2 separate regions of the Homo sapiens genome follow, and region 1 is linked to region 2. Evidence: fine-mapped expression QTL. A gene starts in region 2. The other region holds a variant in brackets. All regions are shown on one strand. Distances are from middle to middle. Region 1 has its middle 4.2 kb from the start of TMT1B. Region 2 holds the start of CD63 (CD63 molecule).

Evidence for each region. PIP is the estimated chance that this variant, and not a neighbour inherited with it, causes the effect.
Region 1: its variant is fine-mapped to the expression of CD63 in whole blood (GTEx, PIP above 0.99).

The regions. Positions count from the first base shown.
Region 1 is chr12:55,674,813-55,680,184 of GRCh38, reverse strand. No RefSeq gene overlaps it. Among named protein-coding and RNA genes, the nearest start is that of TMT1B, 4.2 kb to the left of the region's middle. The variant C/T (reference allele first, on the strand shown) is at 3,195.
Region 2 is chr12:55,726,968-55,732,338 of GRCh38, reverse strand. It overlaps CD63 (CD63 molecule), which reads left to right and starts at 3,330. Exons shown (of 8, transcript NM_001780.6): 1 at 3,330-3,386; 2 at 3,987-4,063; 3 at 5,000-5,188. The coding sequence starts at 3,998. CD63-AS1 (CD63 antisense RNA 1) reads right to left here and starts at 3,245. Exons shown (of 2, transcript NR_183514.1): 1 at 2,984-3,245; 2 at 1,487-2,677. RefSeq lists silencers at 2,984-3,363, 3,634-3,933 and an enhancer at 2,898-3,504.

The sequences.
Region 1 (5,372 bases), 52 kb after region 2:
GGGAAACCATTACCACAGTCGAGATAATGAACATGTCTATGTGTTAGGCTTTTGCATTGCTGTTAAGAAATACCTAAGGCTGGTTGATTTATAAAGAAAAAAAGTTTAATTGGTTCATAGTTCTGCAGACTGCACAGGAAGCATGGCACCAGTATCTGCTTGGCCTCTGGTGAGGGTCTCAGGGAGCTTACAATCATGGTGGAAGACGAAGGGGAGCAGTGTATCACATGGCAAGAGAGGGAGCAAGAGAGACCTTGCGTGAACTGCCAGAGCGAGAACTCACTCATCACCAAGGGGTTGGCACTGAGCCACTGATGAGGGGTTGGGACCTCAGGAGCCAAACACATCCCACCAGGCCCCACCTCTGACATTGAGGATTACATTTCAACATGAGATTTGGAGGGGACAAACATCCAAACTATATCAGTTTCCTTGTGTTTCTTTGTAATCCATTCGCCCCTCTTTCATCCCCATCTTCAGGTAACCGCTGATCTGCTCTCTGTCAGTATAGATTAATTTCTCTTCTCTTCTCTTCTCAGGCAGAGTCTCACTCTGTGGCCCAGGCTGGAGTGCAGTTGTTTGATCTTGGCTCATTGCAACCTCCACCTCCCAGGTTCAAGTGATTCTCCTGCCTCAGCCTCCTGAGTAGCTGGGATTACAAGCATGCACCACCATGCCCGGCTAATTTTTGTATTTTTAGTAGAGACGGTGTTTCACCATATTGACCAGGCTGGTCTCAAACTCCTGACCTCGGGTGATCCGCCTACCTTGGCCTCCCAAATAGTTTGCATTTTCTGGAATTTTGTGTAAATGGAATCCTATAATGTATGGGATTTCAGCATCTGGCTTATTTCATTCAGCATGTTTATTTGGAGAGTCATCCATGTTGTACATGCATCCGCAGTTCATTTCCATTTCTGAGTAGTATTCCATTGTATGGATATACCACATATATTTTTATCCATTCACTTGTTGATAAACGTTTGGGTTGTTTCCAATTTCTGACTGTTAGAAATAAAGCTACTATGAACTGTTTGTGTACATGGGTTTGTGTGGACGTATGCTTTTATTTCTCTTGGGTGAATACCTGGGTGTGTATTTTGATGTTCAAATTGCCCTAGATTTGGCTGGGGGAGCACCTGCAAGCTGGCTCCTGTCTCCTTTTGACACAACTCCATCACTCTTTGAGCATTTTCTTACTTTCTGCTACAAGAAGATGTTCCAGGCTCATCTTGTATTTCCCCTGCTCCAGCCCCGAACTTAGTTATTTCTCAAAGAAGCACTGGTCTTTTGTGAGGAGGATGGTATTTAAAAACCAAGATCTGAATGCTGGATGTGATTATCACTGGGGAGTAATTGCTCCTGGGCCTGCTCCATGGACACAGAAAGAGGCAAAGTAGTATTATCCTGTGCTTTTTATTTGCTCTTTTCTTTTTCTTTTCCTTTTTTTTTTTTTTTTTTCCTGAGACAGAGTCTCACTCTGTCGCCCAGGCTGAAGTGCAGTGGCACTATCTCGGCTTGCTGCAACCTCCGACTCCCGGATTCAAGCGATTCTCCCTCCTCAGCCTCCCGAGTAGCTGGGATTACAGGCGCATGCCACCACACTTGGCTAATTTTTGTATTTTTAGTAGAGACAGGGTTTTACCATGTTGGCCAGGCTGGTCTCGAACTCCTGACCTCAGGTGATCCACCAGCCTCGGCCTCCCAAAGTGCTGGGATTACAGGTATGAGCTGCCGTGCCCGGCTTACTTACTCTTTTCTGCGTGAGGTTGAATTTTTGTTTCTTATAATTAAGAGCCTCTGTATTTCCTTTTCTAGAAATTTTCATTTTATTTTTTATTTTTGAGATAGCCTTGCTCTGTCACTCAGGCTGGAGTGTAGTGTGCGATCACAGCTCACTGCAGCCTCAACCTCTCAGGCTCAAGCAATCCTCCCACCTTAGCCTCCTGAGTAGTGGTCACCACAGGTATATGCCAACATGCCCAGCTAATTTTTCTTTTTTTTGAGACGGAGTCTTGCTCTGTCACCCAGGCTGGAGTGCAGTGGCATGATCTCTGCTCACTGCAAGCTCTGCCTCCCGGGTTCATGCCATTCTCCTGTCTCAGCCTCCCGAGTAGCTGGAACTACAGGCGCCCGCCACCACGCCCGGCTAATTTTTTTTTGTATTTTTAGTAGAGATGGGTTTTCACCGAGTTAGTGAGGATGGTCTCGATCTCCTGACCTCGTGATCCACCCTCCTCGGCCTCTGAAAGTGCTGGGATTGCAGGCGTGAGCCACCATGCCTGGCCAGACACACATATATATTTTTTTAAATTTTCTTTTTTTAATTACACTTTAAGTTCTAGGGTACATGTGCACAACGTGCAGGTTTGTTACATATGTATACATGTACCATGTTGGTGTGCTGCACCCATTAGCTGGTCATTTACATTAGGTATATCTCCTAATGCTATCCTTCCCCCCACCCCACCCCACGACAGGCCCCAATGTGTGGTGTTCCCCACCCTGCAGATACACAGATTTTCAATTGTGAGGGGTATCAGTCCCCTAGGTCCTGAGTTGTTCAAGGGTCAACTGTACAGCCATGTGCTGCATAACACATTTAGCTCAATGACAGAGCACATATATGATGGAGGTACCATAAGATTATTATGTAGCTGAAAAATCCCTGTCCTGTAGTGATGTCTTGATGATCCTGACCTTGTGTAGACCTAGGCTAATGTGTGTCTTTGTGTCTTAGCTTTTAACAAAAAAGTTAAAAAAATTTAAAAAATAGAAAAAGCTTATAGAATAAGGATATAAAGAAATAAAATATTTTTGTACAGCTGTAGAATATTTATGTTTTAAGCTAAGTGTTATTACAAGAGTCAAAGTTAAAAAAATTAAAAAGTTTATAAAGTAAAAAAGTTGCAGTAAGCTAAGGCTAGTTTATTATTGAAGAAAAGAAAAAAAAAATGTAAATAAATTTAGTGTAGTCACTCACTGACTCACCCAGAGCAACTTCTTGTCCTGCAAAGTCCATTCATGATATGTGCCCTATATAGGTATGCCGTTTTTAAATCTTTTATACTGTATTTTTTACCACACCTTTTCCACGTTTAGATACATAAATACTTAACATGGTGTTACAATTGCCTATAGTATTGAGTACAGTAACATGCTGTACAGGCTTGCAGCCTAGGAGCAATAGGTTA[C/T]GCCATATAGCCTAGCTGTATAGTAGGCTACACCATCCAAGCTTGTGTAAGGACACTCTATGATGATGTTCCCGTAATGGTAAAATCACCTAACGATGCATTTCTCGGAACTTATTCCTGTTGTTAAGCAACATATGACTTAACATGTGACTGTATATTCAGAGTTGTGCAACCAGCCACCACAATCAATTTTAGAACATTTTCGTTACCCCAAAAGAAACTTGTGCTTTTACCACTTACTCCCATTTCCCCCATCCCCATCCCAACCCCAGTACCATCAATTTCCTTTCCGTAGGCAATCACTACTCTACTTATGTCTGTATGGATTTACTTATTCTTGACATTTCATGTAATTGGAATCATACTACATGTGGCCTATGTGACTGGCTTTTCACACAGCATAATGCTTCCAAAGTTTACACATGTTGTAGCATGTATCAATACTTCATTCCTTTTACGTCCAAGTAGCATTGCATTGTACAGATATGCCACATTTTGTTTATTTATTCAACAGTTGATAGACATTTGGGTTGTTTCCACTTTTGGGGTACTATAAACAATGCTGCTATGAATTCTTGTCTTCATTTTATCTTTCTTTCTCCTAAATCATTAATCTCTGCCTTTCCATGGATCTTTCAAAATATGAATATGCTCTAATATATTTCAGGTTAATAATAAACTGACCCTCTTGACACCACATGTCACTTTAGCTAAAACTCCATTTTACAAATCTATGTCAAAGTCTTTTTTTTTTGGCAGGATCTTGCTCTGTTGCCTAGGCTGGAGTGCACCATTCTGACTCACTGCAGCCTCAAACTCCTGGGGTTGTGCTGCCCTTCCTGCTTCAGCCTCTTGAGTAGCTAGGACTATAGGTGCATACCACCATGCCTACTAACTTTTAAAAATTTTTGTAGAGACAGGGTATCTCTCAGGGTTGCCCAGGCTGATCTTGAACTCCTGGCCTCAAGCCATCCTCCTGTCTTGGTCTCCCAAAGTGCTGGGATTACAGGCGTGAGCTACTGTGCCAAGCCCAAGAAATTTTTATTAGTGATGGATTGGAGTGGGAGAAAGAGTGAATGGAAGGTGAGGAAACCAAGATAACACGAGCAGATGACTCAAGAATTATGACTTTGGGCGGGCGTGGTGGCTCGTGCCTGTAATCCAAGTACTTTGGGAGGCCGAGAGGAAATGACTGCTTGAGCCCAGGAGTTTGAGACCAGCTTGGGCAACATAGGCTGTTGTTTTTCTCTACAAAAAATAAAAAAATTAGCCAATTAGCCGGGTGTGGTGGCATGCGCCTGTAGCCCCAGCTACTTAGGAGGCAGAGGCAAGGGGATTGCTTGAGCCTGCAAGTTCAGGGTTACAGTGAACCATGACTGGGTCAGTGTACTCCAGCCTGGGAGACAGAGAGAGACCCTGTCTCTAAAAACAAAACAAAACAAAACAAAGAAACCCGAAACTATTATTATCAAGCCTATTAATTATTTCCACATGCCAGGTCCAGTGAATATTCCCTGTTCTCATCTTATCTGACTTTTCAACAGCTTCAGAAATAGTTGGCTACTATTTCTTCTTGAAAAATTCTCTCATCTAGGCTGTCCTAACATAACAGTCTTCTTGTTTCTATAACATTCCCGTGGCTGTTACTTCTTAGAAACTTCTTTTTTTAGATCTTTCTCATCTACTCGACCTTTAAATTTTGTTTCTTTGGGTTTAGTCTTGGGTCTTTCTCTGTCTAAATTCTCTCATTAAATAACCTCATCTTTTTTTTTTTAATATAGACTTTATTTTTTAGAGCAGTTTTAGCTTCATAGAAAAGTTGAGGAAAGTACAGAGATTTTCCACATACCCTTTGTCCTCACACATGACTAGCCTTCCTCATTATCAGTATCCCCCACCAGAGTGGACATTTATTACAATTGATGAACCTACATTGACACATAATTTTCACCAAATCCCATCCATTTTCATGGTTTAAAATGCCATGTATATGCAAATTATTCACACATTTATATCTTTAGTGCAGATCCTTCCTTTGAGTTTCAAATTTGTATACCCAGTTGTGTACTTGATCCTCCTCCTCAGCATATCTTCTGGACATATAAAACTTAACATGTCCAAAATGACACTTACGGTACTCCCCAAGTCTCTTGTCTTACTCTGCCCATCTTCTTCATC
Region 2 (5,371 bases):
GAAGGGCCAGGTCTGAGATCAGCCACTTCCCACTAAGAGGCCCCTCTATCCTGCACCCCAGCAAACACATGGAGCTCTGTGTCAACTTTCCAGGCTGTAGAAGTGGGCCATTCTTTGTGTGTATGTGTGTAGTAAAATATATATAACATAAAATTCAGGGACATTGAGTACATACACATTGTGCAACCATCAGCACCATCCATCTCCACAACATTTTCATCTTTCTTTCTTTTTCTTTGAGACAGAGTCTCGCTCTGTTGCCCAGGCTGGAGTGCAATGGCACAATATCGGCTCTACTAAAAATACAAAATTATCCAGGCATGGTGGCGCATGCCTGTAATCCCGGCTACTCAGGAGGCTGAGGCAGGAGAATCTCTTGAACCTGGGAGGCAGAGGTTGTGGTGAGTTGTGCCACTGCACTCCAGCCTGGGCAACAAGAGCAAAACTCCATCTCAAAAACAAAAACAAAAACAAAAAACCTAGATGTTTATGGTTAAGGAAACAAATTAATAATAATAAAAAAGATAATATCGATTCTTACAAAATACAGTAATTAAGAAAATTAATCCTTTATCACAAACTTTTGTAGCAGAGCACATCTCTCCATATATACAAGCATTATACCGAGGGTGAATGTGTTCCTCCTCTTACTTTTTTTTTTTGAGACAGAGTTTTGCCGGGCACAGTGGCTCACGCCTGTAATCCCAGCACTTTGGAAGGCTGAGGGGGCGGATCACGAGGTCAATAGATGGAGACCATCCTGGCCAATATGGTGAAACCCCATCTCTACTAAAAACACAAAAATTAGCTGGGCGTAGTGGTGCGTGCCTGTAGTCCCAGCTACTTGGGAGGCTGAGGCAGGAGAATCACTTGAACACGGGAGGCGGAGGTTGCAGTGAGCCAAGATGGCACCACTGCACTCCACCCTGGTGACAGAGCGAGACTCCGTCTCAAAAAAAAAAAAAAAAAAAAGAGAGACGGAGTTTCACTCTTGTTGCCCAGGATGGCATGCAGCAACACGATCTCTGCTCACTGCAACCTCTGCCTCCTGGGTTCAAGTGATTCTCCTGCCTCAGCCTCCTGAGTAGCTGGGACTACAGGCACACATCATTGTGCCCAGCTACTTTTTGTATTTTTAGTAGAGACGGGGTTTCACCGTGTTGGCCAGGCTGGTCTCGAACTCCTGACCTCAGGTGATCCACCTGCCTAGGCCTCCCAAAATGCTGGGATTACAGGTGTGGTGAGCCACTGCGCCTAGCCCCTCCTCTTACTTTGGGGAACATCCTACTCTGTCTATGGAGCAGCTGTTGTTTCACCACTTTACTTTCTTAATAAACTTGCTTATACTTTGCACTGCGACTCGCCCTGAATCTTTCTTGCATGAGATCCAAGAACCCTCTCTTGTGGTCTGGATTGGGACCCCTTTCCTGTAACAAATGCATTGGCTGATAGGAGAATAAAGAAAAAAAAAGAGGAAAAACTAGAGTAACTTCTCTACATAATCATATTATATGACCGTTTTGTTAACCATGATAACAGTTAACAAAATAATTTTCTTATGTCTAATTCTCAGTCCATGTCTGTATGTCCCAAAATGTCTTTCACAGCTGGTTTGTTCAACCATTCAATGAAGGACCAAACATTGCAGTTGGTTGTTATGTATCTAGTCTCTCAATCTTGATCTTCAGACCACCTTCAGCCCATCTCACCACATCCGTCCCAAGCCCTTTGAGCCAGCCAACCCCAACCTGCCATGTACTTTACAAAATGCTCCTTTTTTTTCCACAGTCGACTGCTTCTCTGTCCCTGGAGCTCTCCCCTTTATTCTCCAAGGTCACCTTGAGCACATCCTTCTGCTCCGTGAAATCCATTCTCCTCTCCCTTTCCCTCCCTCTGAGCTTAACCAGCTGCCACCGCAGGCTTCTGCCTTTCTTCACAGTGTGGCCAGAACTCGGTTCTGCCTGCTAGCAGAGGGCAGGGCCGCTGTCTTCCTCTCCTTGCAGCCCCCAAGCCTAGCACATGCCTGGCATCTAGTGGCAGCACAATAAGGAACCTGATGAATACTCCTTTCTTCTGCTCTCCGCTCCTCCTCCACAGCCTGCCAGCCATGGTCAGGAAGAGCAAGATCCGGAATGGGCTTGGTGTGTCCCGCGGGAAGGCCGTGATCCTGGAAGATGCTTCTCAGCCCAGCCCGGATCTCCTTCCTTTAGCTCTAGAGACTTCTTTCATTCTTTGTGTACACACATACACTAAGACTCAGGAAGTGGTTCTTGAGGCAGGACCTTAAGAGCCCAAGGAGTGGGGCCGAGGCTGGAGGTGTGGGGGTGTGACGGCCGGTCCTACTCTCCGGCCTGTTCAGATCAGCTCCTTCTGGGGACCACCCCTGGCACACAAGGGAGGGAGGCAGCTTGATCCCCCTAGCCCGCTTCCAGCCCTCACCTGGCTTTGTCTTCTGGGATAAGACGGGGAAATCCAGAGGATGTAAGCCTCTCCTGCCTTCGTGTCTTCCCCCAAGCCCTCGCTATCACAGACGGATGCAGGAGCTGTCTGGGAGGCTGGAAGCACAGACCTTGTCAATCCTCCCCCAGAGGGCGGGACCCGACGCGGACGTGTCTTGATTGACTGGGTAGCGTGGCTTCGGGGAAGGGCTTCCTCCCCTTTTCTCAGACTAGGATCCCTGGAAAATGGAGAAGCTGTGCTAATAGAGGGGGGCCAGAAATCCCCACTCTAGAATGCTGTAGAATGTTGGGAGACACCCAGGATGTGAGCCAGGGACTTTCTGGAAGTGTTTGTTCTGGCCCCACCCGACCCCAGGCAGTCCCCAGCTGTCTGCACAGTCGGATGGGGAGGGGGCTTGCACAGAGTTGGAGCCAGAGGAGAGAGCTGGCTCATCCCCTACGGTAGGATGGGGAAACCTCACAGACCACATTGTCACCCGGCCTCAGCTCTCCGCCCCGGCGCTCAGAGGGTAACTCTCACCCACCTCGTCCGCTTCTCTGAACCAGAGTGACCCAGGCTGCGCTCCGCCCCGCTCTCCTACCCCGAGTTGGCACGGAGGTATAGCGCCAGAGGGGGGCCCCAGGCGCCCCGAGGTCTTGCCCTTGCGGCTTTCCCTTTGCGGGGGTGGGCGCCTTCTTCCGGGTAGGGGCCACGTGGCCCTGGCCGGGCGGGGGGCTCGGCCCACCCCGCGCCGGGCCCAGTGACTCAGGCCGCAGCTGTTACCGCGTCACATGAGGGAGGCCGGCGGCCACTCGGCGGGGGAGGGGACCGTGGCTGGAGCCCGGGGCGGGGCCGCGCGGCAGGCGGGGCGGGAGCCGGGGGGCGCAGCTAGAGAGCCCCGGAGCCGCGGCGGGAGAGGAACGCGCAGCCAGCCTTGGGAAGCCCAGGTGAGGCCGCGGGGACCCGGCGGACTTCGGCGCGGGCTGGGAGAGACCACCCGCAGTCCCTTCCTCCAGGGCTCGCCCCAGGCCCGCGGAGACTCGTCCGGCGCTCTCCAGCCGCCCTGGAGCAACTTTGCTTCGAAGTTCCCTGGGCCCGGGCAGGGTGTGGCGGGGGTGCTGGCTGCACTTTTTTTTTTTTTGGTGGGCGGGGAGGTCAGAGCCCAGGGGAAAGGGGCTGGGGCGGGGGTCGGGGTTGGGCTGAAGACCGTTTCTCCAGGCTGGGTGTTGGGTGGGGAAAGGGTGTTTGACGCCCGGAGACTGGCGGGCCGAGGGTCGGCGTCAGGCTCAAGCCCCTGCCGGCGCCCTTGGATCTGTCCTGGGCCCCAGAGGCGGCGGGGCGGGGTCCGGGCTTCGCGGCCGTCGCCCCCACCCCTCTCCTGCGGGTAAAGAGGGGGCTGGGAGACGTGGATCCGACCGCGGGTTTCCGGGTGGGAGGGGCCGGGAATCGGGGCCGTGAAGGGAAGCCCTCGAGGGCCGGCCGGGAGCCCGGAAACCGAGGTCCCCCTTCGGCCAGTTTTAATCCCCCCGCCCTCCCCTCTGCCCCAGGCCCGGCAGCCATGGCGGTGGAAGGAGGAATGAAATGTGTGAAGTTCTTGCTCTACGTCCTCCTGCTGGCCTTTTGCGTGAGTGGCGAGGGGTCCTGGGGGGCGCGCCGGCAGGGTGCGGGGAGACCTGGCTCCACAGTGGTGAGGGCTGAGGGAATGAGAATTAAGGCAGCTGGAGACCAGATGTGGAAAGAAAGCCAGGGAAAGACAGCGCAGCCACTCCCTCCTCCAGTTTTCCTGGACACCTGAGGCTTGTTTCCACCGAGAATGGCCATCCTGGGTGTGCAGCAACCCCTACCCCCATCCCTCCTGGCCCTTCCTGTCTGGTGACCCAACCACTTGTGATATGGGGCAGTGGGGCAACCAGCCAACCGCCTGATGCTATCGCCATGGGGCTTCCCTTCGCTCTCCCTTCTCCCCTCTCTCCCTCCCCAACCCTCTCATCCCTGTCCAGCCCCTCTCCCCCTTTCCCTCCTCCCAGCGCTTGGGGGTGAGGAAGGGCTCTGCCCACTTCAATTTGCTCCTGCCCTGGGCTCCTGGCTTGAGAGGCTACTGTTTGTCTAGGGAGGGACACATCACTCTTGCTCCCTTTTCCTCTTCCCTTCTCCTGGCCTAACTGGCCAGAGGAACCTTAGTCACAGCTGATGCGCGCGTGGGATGTGCACTGGAGGATAGTGAGGGGGCAGTTCTGGGAGAGAATTGAGCTGGGAGCCCTGGAGGCCTGTAGAAAGCATTATTCTAGGTCAGAAATACGTGTCTTGAGGTCAAGGCTTTCTGGGAGGTTTTTGAATTTGGTCATGTCCCTGATTAAAGAGCCGGGAGGGGATCAGGGGAGGTAGGGGCAGGCAAGGATGGGTCATCCCCCTACCCCACAGCCAAAGAAATTCCCTAGAGGTGTGAGAATCTCTCTTCCGGATGGGGTCAAGTCTGTGTCCTAGGTGTACCCCCTGCCCTCCACCATGGAGGGCCACTGTGTTGTGGATATGGCCTAATCCTCACCTGATTTTCTCTTAGGCCTGTGCAGTGGGACTGATTGCCGTGGGTGTCGGGGCACAGCTTGTCCTGAGTCAGACCATAATCCAGGGGGCTACCCCTGGCTCTCTGTTGCCAGTGGTCATCATCGCAGTGGGTGTCTTCCTCTTCCTGGTGGCTTTTGTGGGCTGCTGCGGGGCCTGCAAGGAGAACTATTGTCTTATGATCACGGTGAGTTGGGGGCGGGACCAACATGGGCGGTCTGGGACTGCCAGAGCAGCTTGGTTCGGGCTCAGGAAGGTGGGTGAGGTGGGTGGGTGAGGAAGACCTTTGTGAGTGTCCAGGGACCGGCTGTGCCAAAACGGGCCCCTGTAATGCATAGACTCCAAACTTGACTTCTGTCCTTTGCTCCTG